Linked DNA regions of Homo sapiens. The protein of the gene in region 2 purifies or fractionates together with the protein of the main gene of each other region. This does not show direct contact. Each region holds a gene or a part of one and is shown on either strand. Other genes may lie near its edges.

Region 1 (3,651 bases), on a different chromosome or scaffold from region 2:
CTCAATTTGGAAGTCTTGAATTTTAGAGATGGATTATCTTGCATGCCAGAGCGCTGGAATGGAATAAAATGATGGCAGAAGTACAAACCAGATTTAGAGAATTGAGTGCTTGCAGTCAAGCAGAATGTACCTCCTGCAGAGACAAATCTTCTGCATGAGATTACTGATGCTTCACTTGCACTCTAAGCTGGAATCCAAACTCTGGTTTGTCTCTTGAAAATTTGACTCTATAAAACTGATCTGATTTTCTGTTTTTAAAAATAAATATATTTTTGGAAAAAAAAAATATCTGGCTTCCCAAATAAAACTTTATAAGTGAATCTCATCTCTAGCTATCTCCTAGGATGAATGGAGATATAACAGTTGTCTTCAAGGGTGAAGAGAAACATTTTTACATAGGAATAACCTAATCGTATACCTTTGGTCGGAGCTCTAAAGAATTAGGAAGAATGTGAAAGACTGGCTGGCTTTGTGGGCTACTATCTCTCTCTAGCTTTTAGAGTTTGGTTTTTCAGAATATTTCCAATCATCTTGCACCTGCTCCATAAAAACATTCCCAAGTGCCACCCCATTTAAAATGTCATTATCATACCTGTACAGGTAATAACAATGTCCACTTGTCGGATGACCTCATTTAATTTCACCAGTCGAAATCCATCCATACTGTTGAAATAAAGCATGACCCATTAACCTAAACAGGCAGCTGGGGAGCCTTTTAACACAGGACTTCAAAAGCTAATATCAAGTTGCTGTCATTTCTTGAGATAGCTGAACTATTCTTAGAAGTGAAAAATCCAAACAATTTCCTTAGTTCATACAAGACAGAAATAAAAGGTTCGTTTGCATCACGGAACTTATTTCTTCCTGATAATAGGGAGCCAGGGGCTACCATGAGATTCCCTGACCAAATTTCTAGAAACTGTAGAAAGTGCCACTTAGCCATTTAACCAACTACCCCATTGAAACTGCTCTCTCCAAGATCATCAGTGATCCCCCGAAGGCCAAACCCAAGATTTCTTAGACTCTTAACTGTGTGTGTTTTTTTTTTTTTAGAGATGGGATCTCACTATGCTGCCCAGGCTGGAGTGCAGTAGCTAGTCACAGGCATAATCATAGTGCACTACAGCCTCTAACTCTTGGCCTCAAGCAATCCTCCTGCCTCAGCCTCCTGAGTAGCCAGGACTATTGGCATACACCACCATGCCCAACTTCTTAGACTCTTATATTATTTGATTTCTTCTACTACATTAAACATTATTTGCCTTCTTAAAACTCTATACCCCTTGGACTCCATGATACATCTCTCCTGGTTTTCCTCTTACTTCTCTTAATTGCCTCTCCTCAACTTCAGCCAACCTTTGGATATTGGTGCTCTGCAGGGTTATGCCTTTATTCTTTTCTCTATTCTTTCAGTATAGAGAACCATACTCTTCCTTTGGCTGCAAATGACTGCTGATAGATGGCTGATTTTTACATTTGTAACTTTAGCTTAGATCTCTCTGAAGCTTCATAGCCAAGGATCAAATTAGCCACTGGATAGCACCTCATCAATGTCCCAGAAGGATCTCAAACTTACTGTGTTTGAAAATAAACTTATTATTTTCTCTGCACCCATAATCTCATCTATTTCTTCTTCTATATTTTCTATCTTGATCAATAGCATCACTGTTCATCCAACTGAATGAGCCATATAAACAAGAATGTCCTTGCTGCCTCTCCTGAATTGAAGTTGTCACCAAATCTGGGTGACTCTTTTTCTTTAATTCCATAAACGTCTCTTTCATCTCTCTACTCTTCTCTAATACATACTGGCCTTGCTTAAGTTTAGGTCTTATTACTTCTTGCCTAGATTACTATAGTAACCCCTGGCCCAATCTCATTGCCTCTAGGTTTACATCTTTCTAAATCATTTGGCAGAGTGATTTTCCTAAATGCAATTTGGATCATGTCGCTTCCTTTCCTTAAAATACTTCAGTGAGACTGCCTGTTCTTAAGGATAAGACAGGATAAGAGTAAGACCCAAATACTTACAGTGATATGTGATTATATTGACATATGACTCCCATGACTCCTACCTTAGATAGTACCACTCCCCCAAATGTATTTCATCTGCCAACTACATTAAAATATTTCTAGCTTCTTAAATCTGCCATGCTATCTCCTTCCTTGGAGACAACACACATGTTCCCAGTACCTGGAATATACTTCCAAACTAAGAAAACACCTATACAAATGTCAAGACTCAGCTCTGCTGACATCTCTTTCTACCCTGCTCCCTTGCTCTTCAGTAAGCAATTTCTCCTTTATGCTCCTACAGAAGCATGTGCCGTTTAACTCCATGACAGCACTTACTTTGCTGCACAGTGGTTATCTGTCTGTGTGCTTCTAAAAGCAGGACCTTATCTCATTTATATATTCATCTTATTCATTCTCAGCACATAGCACAGTATCTAATGCATAGTAAGTGATCAATTCGTGTCTACAGGATAATCTGAACAGGATAATCTGAACTGTTCAGTATCTGAACAGTATCAATTTGTATTAAAATATGTTCAGGTTCCTAAACTCTTAGTGTACCAGAAGGATGATGGTTCCCCTAGGCTACAGACACTTGGACTCTGCAATAGTTTTTAAGAACAGTGGTATTTCCCACCCTGCTGAGGATGGCAAGAGACAATTTTAATAACAGCTATTATTTAATGAGCATATATTATGTGGCAGCAGCTCTGTACCTTATATAATTATGTATTTGTTATATAATGTATAATATAGAATAATAATTATTTTGAGACATGGTCTTGCTGGGTCACCCAGGCTGGAGCGTAGTGGCATAATCACAACTCACTGCAGCCTCCACCTCCCAGGCTTAGGTGATACTCATACTTCAGCCTCCCAAGTAGCTGGGACCACAGGCATGCACCACCACACCCAGCTAATTTAAAAAAATTATTTGTAGAGATGGGGTCTCCCTATGTTGCCAAGGCTGGTCTCGAACTCCTGGGCGCAAGCAATCCTCCTGCCTCAGCCTCCCAAAGTGCTGGGATTACAGGCATGAACCCATTACACCCAGCCTATGCTAATTATTATTTTACTGAACTCTCACAATCCTATGAGGTAGGTATGATTACACACATTTTATAGATAAGAAAAGTTTTAACTTTTAATTTTAGAATCATTTCAAACTTAAGAATTATAATACTAGTGTAAATAATTCTCATATATGCTTCACTCAGAGTTAGTAGATTTTACCCTTAACTGGGATTGGTCTAATGTTTCCTCACAATTAGATTCAGGTTATACATTTTTGGGAGGAATACCACAGAAGGGCTATTTTCAGTGTAACACATCAGAAGGCATCTGATGCCTGCCAATTTCTTTTCTGATCATTATTTGAAAGGCAAGTATCATACATGGAGAAGGTAAGGGGCTACCTGTTCTCTGGCTGACAGAATCCCTGTTACTATCTCCACAGGATTTCTAAATTTTCGCTTTTCTGATAGTCTCTGCTCTCTCCAAGCAGAGCTCCTTGACCTTTTTAAAAGACAGATGCTTAGAGTTAGTGGCAGCATCTCTGAGGATCTGGGCTCCTCTAAAATAAAGTGTGGCATCAACCAGGCCATTCTTTGGAGACAGCTCCGAGATTGCAAGTGA
Region 2 (3,519 bases):
TTTCAGAAAAGTTAACCCCTGCGTTGCTTCGACCCCTTCTCTCCGGGGAGGGTTGGGTAAATGTCTCCGAATCGCCTTGAGAGAGAACTAAAGAAGGTTTGTTTCTAGGGTTTTGTGTCGGTAGAAGGTGAGAAGAGTTCTCCGCTAAGATAAGCAAAGAAGAAACACCCTCCTCCCCAGGTTTTGAACATCGTTTTTCCTGTTTATCAGATCTGCTCTGTCTCCTCCAAGCCTCGGCTTATTGTTCCTGCTTCTCCACAACCCTTCTGGTCTGAGGGGGCAGGCCAGATCCCACTGCCTAGAAGACCCAGAAGAGGAGGAGCTGGCAGGAGGGACTGAGCCCAAGCTTCCCCTTCTGACTCTGTGGCTAGACTAGGAGCTTCTTGGAAGGCGGCGACGAGGGTGGCTGCCCAAAACATTCTGCCTGGTTCTAGTATGCAGCTGCTCACCCTTGGCAGGGGAAGGGGCACTGGGGAAAGGGACTAGCCCTCTCCTCACTTGGTGATATGGAGTGAAGGAGTGAGGGGTATCCCTCAGCCTAGGTGGCTTTATTTGTCTGATCCCTATCCTGCCTGCAACCCTCACTCCAGTACCCTCTACAATCCCAAAAGACTTAAGAATAGCCTGGGCTATAGGATTTTCAGGAATCAGGGATGTCCCAGTAAATCTGGGCACAAGGAAGAAATCATTCTTCTTCCAGTTGTGGGCTTTGAACCCTCCTGATAGTTGAGGCAGTCAGAGACCACTGGGAAGAAATGCATCCTCACTCCTCTTCTAAGTCTCTGTAGGAGCTGCCAGTTCTTTTTAAAATTAATTCTTTCCCAAGACTTGGTTTTTGCTTTAGTTTGATAGGGAGAGAAGGTCGTTTGCGTTCTCTTGGGGACTCAGCAGGCTGCTTCCAGCCATCAGCCAGCATCCCCTCTCCCTTCTGTCTGTATCTCAGCATCGCTACAATTCCCTCCCACACCCCGTGTTTGTATCATCAGCTTTGCCGCCTTACAAATTTAGGTGTGTCAGAGAATGTATGTCTCTGGCTCTTTCATCCAAGGAAAATAAGCATTGAGCCCAGGCTGGGAGACAGGGCCACAGTGCATTCCCAACATTCTAATATACATACACAGGCCAAGTAGTGAAGGGTGACAACCTTCACACCTGGGGACAAGAAGGGGCCAGGGCATGGAACAAAGTCAGATGTCAGGCCAGGCTGACCCTCCTCTGCCTTGTCCTTCCTTTGGGCTCCTTTTTCTGGCCAAGTTCTGCCCACTGAAGATGGTACAAGACACTAGGGAAGGTGGCAGGGGACTGAGCTTGGATCACCAAGGGTGGGAACTTATTTGGTTGCAACGTGGTCTCCAAGGCTCTCTAAACTCAGGGCAACTTCTTGGCTGTACCTTAATGGCAAAATAGCCATCCCTAGATGGCCTCCAATTACTTCCTAACCTGACTCTGTGGGAGTGTTTGATAAGCATTTAAGAAAACAAATTTAAACCCCCTGATAATGAAGAAGGATAAATATTCCATATCTAGGTATGGCTGGGCTTGCTTCTAGAGAGGACTAGGGGCCATTTGAACAGGGGGAGAAAAGTGGGAGAGAGTACCTGCATGCACCTCCCTGCCTACTGCTGAGGCTGAGCCCTGGGCCTCAGCCTTCCCTGCCTCCTCCCTGCCCACAATGTCTCCATCCTAGCACTAAATAGTGTGGTTTTCTCAGTGAAGTCTGAACAAAATAAGATCTGGTGAGGAAGGGAGCATTTCCCTGTGTCAGAAGCAGGGAAATAATTGCCTTATCTTTAGAGTCACAGCCCCCAAATTAACCTCACCTCTGCAGGTTGCTTGTCTGGAGATGGAGCCACTACAGGCGGGCCTGGGCGCCTGGAGTCGGGCATGAAAGAAAATAGCGCCTCATCGCTCTTATCTAAGCCCAGAGGTATTTATGAGCGTTTATTCGTCTGATCCGTTTGTTTGGGAAAAAGAGCAGGCGGGCAGGGCAGGCCAGAGACCGACTCCTTTCTGGAGCCAGATCCCTACGAATCTGTCTGTGGTTCGGTCCACCGCCCTCTGTCTGTCTCCTTGGGGGAATATGTAAATACACAGCGGGCTCAGCCATCCGCCAGTCTGGGGTGTCTCTCCCTGCCTCAATGAGGAAGTGTGTGTTCAGAGAGATGGATAGAAGTGTGTACCAATTCTTGAGTACATAACAGAGGGATTGTACAGATACCCCACAGGCAGGATTTATAATTGTAATTTTCTATGCTGTGAGTCTGCAGTCCTGTGGGCAAGCTAACACATTCCAGCTCCCAGGAAAATGTTTCCTAAGTTGTGTTCAGTTCGGGAGTAAAATTCTTGATAGGTAACCTCAGGAGGGATATTTGCGTGTGTGTGTGTGTGTGTGTGTGTGTGTGGTGTGGTGTGGTGTGTGTGGGAGGGTGCTGAGACATTGTCCAGGCTTCCAATTTCCTCTAAGCTATAAAGCCCTCTCCCTCAGCTCTTTGAGGTGATGAGCACCTTCTCCCACCACCCCCAACTTTGGCTGGGGTGGGGTGGGATGAAAATATTTCAACTCAATTCTCGTCCTGGACTCTGTTTCTCTGGGTTTGGGGAACATAAATAAATGTTCCCAGGGGTACTGAGTGATCACTCCCATAGGTTGAGGGAGGCTGTTTAGATGAGACACTTTGCCCTAAAATCGGCCCCTCCAAATCAAAGTACAAAGACTTCATTTTCATTATGCAAAGGAGCGGCATCCTCTTTGATCTTTAGGGGAGTGAGCAGTAGTGCTGAACCCACTCTCCCGGTTTCCTACCCGCAGGTCCAGGGGACAACCTGAGGGCCCTGAAGTGTTTCAATACCATGTACCAGCTTGACTTCTCTACATGTCCTTTGGATTGCCCAAAAGCAAAATCTCAGAGGGGCCAAGGACCTTCTAGGGCTGGCTCCCTCAGGGCCTCCTATAGAGCAGCTCCTTGAGTCGGGCCTTATAGCCACCAGAAAGTCACCTCGCCGCAGGAAAGCTATAAAGAGCTGCTCCAGAGGCGCCGAAAGAGGGTGAGGGCTGCAGCCACAGTGTTTGTCCCCAGCACCACCAGGCCCCTTAACCTCGTCAGCTCCTCTAGCCCTCGGCCAGACTCTGGCAACACCTTGGTTTGCCTGGCACCGCAGGCAATTTCCTGGAACCCCACCCCCACCCAGGAACGGGGACCACAGCACCTTTAAAGGAACTGCCAGAGCTTCCTCCTACGGCTTGAAAGCCCAAGCTAATCAGTAACCCGTGAGACAGGGGCCAATATTCAAACGCTGCAGCAGAGGCGCATAGCCTAGCCCTGGCCACCCCCTCTTGGGAAGGAGGTCGAGTTAAGCCGGTGTGGAGGGTCCAACAGGAACGGAAATTACGACGGTGTGGTTCCTTAAGGATTTGGCCCCAGTCCCACTACCAAATTTTTCCCAAATCATATTTAGGTAGACTTCGCTTGAAAAGATCGAGAATGGAGGAGGGGATCGGCACTCACTTGCAGACATCAA
Region 3 (3,651 bases), on a different chromosome or scaffold from region 2:
TCAATTACTCAGCTGACACCAATTTCCCACAGCTGACCCTCTCAATCCCTTATTGGAGACACTCACTGGGTAGTCCCCAGGGGGGCCCCAGTTCCCGGCGGGGCCCCGGTGAGGTGGGGGTAGGGGAGGCTTTGGGGCAGGAGGTCCCGGCTCTGTCTCTGGAGGCCGAGAGGTTTCTGCCCAGGCCGTCTTAGGAGTGGGCGGTTCGCTGTTGGGGGAGTTGCCCTTTTTGCCATCTGCTTCAGGGGGCCGTTCCTCACCAGAAGCTGATTGGGAATCCCTGCTGTGAGCAGATCAACAGTGAAATTAAAATCAGCTGCAACTAATATACTCCTCTAAGAGTATATTACCAAAATACAAACCAAGACCCCCTCCTCTTCTCCCCTGATGGCCCTAACTCACTGGCCCTCAGCACCCTCCTCATCAGAGTCTCGCCCATCTTCCTCATCGCTGAACTTGAGCTTTTCAGTGTAGTCAACCTCTTCATGGGCCCCTGAGGGGAAATATGAGTATTAGTAACCCAAGCATTCTGCCCTCCAATCTTGGGAGGTAGTCTGGAACTATGTAACAAGATGGACTACCAATGCCAATATCCTTCCCTCCGAAGTCTAGATCCACCAATGAAGTCTTGTCATTCTTACTCCTCTCACCACTTTGCAAGGACTTGGTATTCCCCATCCATCCTCCCCTACTCTTTTTTTTTTTTCCTTTTAAAAGTCTCGCTCTGTTGCCCAGGATGGAGTTCAGTGGCACGATCATAGCTCACTGTGACCTCCAACTCCTGGGCTCAACTGATCCTCCCACCACAACCTCCAGAGTAGCTGGGACCACAGATGCACAGTCCACACCCAACTAAAAAATTTTTTTTTTTTTGTAGAGGTGGGGGGTCTTGCTGTGTTGCCCAGGCTGGTCTTGAACTCCTGGCTTCAAGCGATCCTCTCACCTAACACTCCCAAAGCACTGGGATTACAGATGTGAGCCATTGGGCCTGGTCTTCCTACACTTCAATGTCTGCCTTTCACCCACATAACCCTGTATTTTTTTTTCCTCATTAGGTTTTGCCTTTCAAGATCCAAATTCTTGACCCTTAATATCCACTTACCTGCCCAACCATCATCATTCTCCTGATCCAACTGATCAAACTCTTTGAGATTATCCTCTTTGAGAATAGAGGGACGACCCACAGGCTCTACTAAGCGCATTGGTGGCCCTGAGCCTCGGGGGCCCGCCACACGGGGAAAACGGCTGTACACAAAAAAGAAAATGAAATATGGCATGTTGTATAACCACATGCGAGACTGATCCTAGACTGAGCCTCCTGGCTAGAAAACCATCTCCTCCCCCAATAAGCTTCCCCTGCCCCCAGCCACAAACCCAGACCTGGATTGCTCACCTGGGCCCATCAGGAGTGGGGTATCGGTAAGGCCCCTGGGGTCCATAGGGCGGAGGGAACGGGAGATATGGGGGATACATCTGTAAAAGGGTCCAACAGTAGCTGCTCAGAGGGACAGTCATATACCCTTCTAGCTCCTTAAGCCTGCTATCAATCATCCTCCCACCCTCCCTTCTATCTCATAGGTCAAAGACTAAGTCCTGATTCCTAGCTCTCCAGCTTCCAGTGTAATCGTTCCAAGACAAGACACCAAGACTCACGAAAGGCGGCATCATTCCGCGGTAGGGAGGGAACTGGGGTGGGCCTGAAGGCTGTAGCCCACCCCGGGGATCATGACCATGATGAAGTTTGGAGTCCGGGCCCTCCAGCTCATCAGGGCCACGCCCACCTCCGTCCCTCCAAGTTGTAGAATCTGTATTTTGGAAAAGGTAGAGAGAGGTATCAATGATTGGAGGACAAGTGAACACAGCTGAAAGTGATGGGGAGGAAGGTGAATAAGCCAGCACCTAGCTCTGAGATGCAATAGGTAATGTCTTGGCCAAAAGGCAGCCACTCACTTTGGGGGCGGAGGCTTGGTCCGGGCCCAGACGACTGTTCGGCAGACTCCCTTTCCTTGGCAGCCTTGTCCTGGTCGCCAGCCGCCTGCAGGGTCGGAAATTCCTCTCGAGAGAATCGTGACAGTAGGCTTGATGCCCTTCCACCTATTAGGATGGGGATGCAGAACAGGAGACAGAAGACATTTCCTGAGGACATGCTATAAAAGTGGAAGACTCTGGCTGGGCGCGGTGGCTCACGCCTGTAATCCCAGCACTCTGGGAGGCTGAGGCGGGCGGATCACGAGGTCAAGAGATCGAGACCATCCTGGCCAACATGTGAAACCCCATCTCTACTAAAAACACACAAAAAATTAGCTGGGTGTGTTGGCGTGTGCCTGTAGTCCCGCTACTCTGGAGGCTGAGGCAGGAAAATCGCTTGAACCCAGGAGGCAGAGGTTGCAGTGAGCCGAGATTGCGCCACTGCACTCCAGCCTGGGTGACAGAATGAGACTCCGTCTCAAAAAAAAAAAAAGTGGAAGGCTCTGACAGGTACCAGACCATCAGGTTTCCCGCCTTCAAACTCACCCCCCTACAGAATAACTGCTTATTCCCCAAGGAGGTCAGTTCTGGCACCACTACACTCCATCATATAAGACTGAGACTTAAACTTGCTCATGTGCCTCCATGAAACTGAATATGGGTGGTCCTTGATTTAGCCAAAGAGGACCAAGGTCACTTGGCTGAAAATACAGTGCAGGGTTCATGCATCCCATGGTGCCCAGACACAGCTCCCCAATTAAGTGCTGCACTCACCATCTCCATGTGCTCCATGGGTGACGCTGGCTTGTGCCCAGGACTTTACCCCGCTTGGAACCAAAGGAGTGTTCTGGGGAAGTGTTCAGAAAGATGATAAATGATGTGGGTGGGGCAGCTATGAACCATTCTTCCTCCCCACCCCTCCAGTTCTCCAGGTACCTCGGGGGCTGCTGGGGGTCGTTTCGGCTGGTTGGAGGCAGGCGTCTGTGAAGCCGGCAGTGGCTGCGATTCCGGCGGCTGAGCGGTTGAGGCATCGGAACTGAGGGGACAGAATGGGAAGGTTATTCACACCTGAGATGCCTCCCTGACTTCTCCAACTGGTGGAGACTCAGGACTGAAATCATGCCCATTGCTACCATTTACAAATATAAGGACAAATTAATTTTGTCATCCTTTGTAGGCTGTTGTCTATTTTTTCATGCTCTCTCTCCAAGACAAAAAGCTAAAGTTTAGTACCATTCCTTAGTCATTTAACAAGGAACCTGCAATAGGTAAGAAAGGGACCTCTTCGTCTCTGGCTCAGACGTGGCTGGACTAAACCAAGCCCCAATGCTCCCTGAAGTTCAAGTTAAAATACCCATCACTCTAGGTCCCCCAAGCCTCTGTCTACCTCTTGGGGTCGGACTGCTCCTGTTTGCTTGCCCATCCTGTTCCGTCTTTTGGCACTAGTGAGACATTGGGGTCATTGCCTTTGTTCTCGGCTTTCAGGCTTGGAAGGTTGGCTGGAGGTGGCATACGCCGGGCAATGGCAACTTTCCCGAGACTCTGCAGGCCATGGCGAGGGGCAACTGGAGAACAAGACGGAGAGAGGGTCGAAAATGCCTCATGTGGGAGATCTGATGGCCTCCTATCCTGGGACACATTTATACATGTTGAATATTTTATTACCTACTTCCTCCAAACTTC

Evidence for each region.
Region 1: the proteins of HOXB6 (region 2) and AHCYL2 purify together in Homo sapiens (affinity purification with mass spectrometry; 2 studies listed by BioGRID and IntAct, with this or other methods). This does not show direct contact.
Region 3: the proteins of HOXB6 (region 2) and PRRC2A purify together in Homo sapiens (affinity purification with mass spectrometry; one large-scale study listed by BioGRID and IntAct). This does not show direct contact.

The regions. Positions count from the first base shown.
Region 1 is NC_000007.14:129,406,488-129,410,138, reverse strand, and holds part of AHCYL2 (adenosylhomocysteinase 3), read right to left. Parts: intron 664-3,651; coding exon 593-663; intron 282-592; exon of another isoform or gene 1-281. UniProt on the Homo sapiens protein: May regulate the electrogenic sodium/bicarbonate cotransporter SLC4A4 activity and Mg(2+)-sensitivity. On the contrary of its homolog AHCYL1, does not regulate ITPR1 sensitivity to inositol 1,4,5-trisphosphate.
Region 2 is NC_000017.11:48,598,619-48,602,137, forward strand, and holds part of HOXB6 (homeobox protein Hox-B6), read right to left. Parts: exon of another isoform or gene 3,457-3,519; intron 3,046-3,456; exon of another isoform or gene 2,810-3,045; intron 1,928-2,809; exon of another isoform or gene 1,829-1,927; intron 1-1,828. UniProt on the Homo sapiens protein: Sequence-specific transcription factor which is part of a developmental regulatory system that provides cells with specific positional identities on the anterior-posterior axis.
Region 3 is NC_000006.12:31,623,614-31,627,264, reverse strand, and holds part of PRRC2A (protein PRRC2A), read right to left. Parts: intron 3,534-3,651; coding exon 3,356-3,533; intron 3,005-3,355; coding exon 2,905-3,004; intron 2,816-2,904; coding exon 2,743-2,815; intron 2,095-2,742; coding exon 1,951-2,094; intron 1,806-1,950; coding exon 1,654-1,805; intron 1,474-1,653; coding exon 1,394-1,473; intron 1,246-1,393; coding exon 1,103-1,245; intron 494-1,102; coding exon 403-493; intron 284-402; coding exon 67-283; intron 1-66. UniProt on the Homo sapiens protein: May play a role in the regulation of pre-mRNA splicing.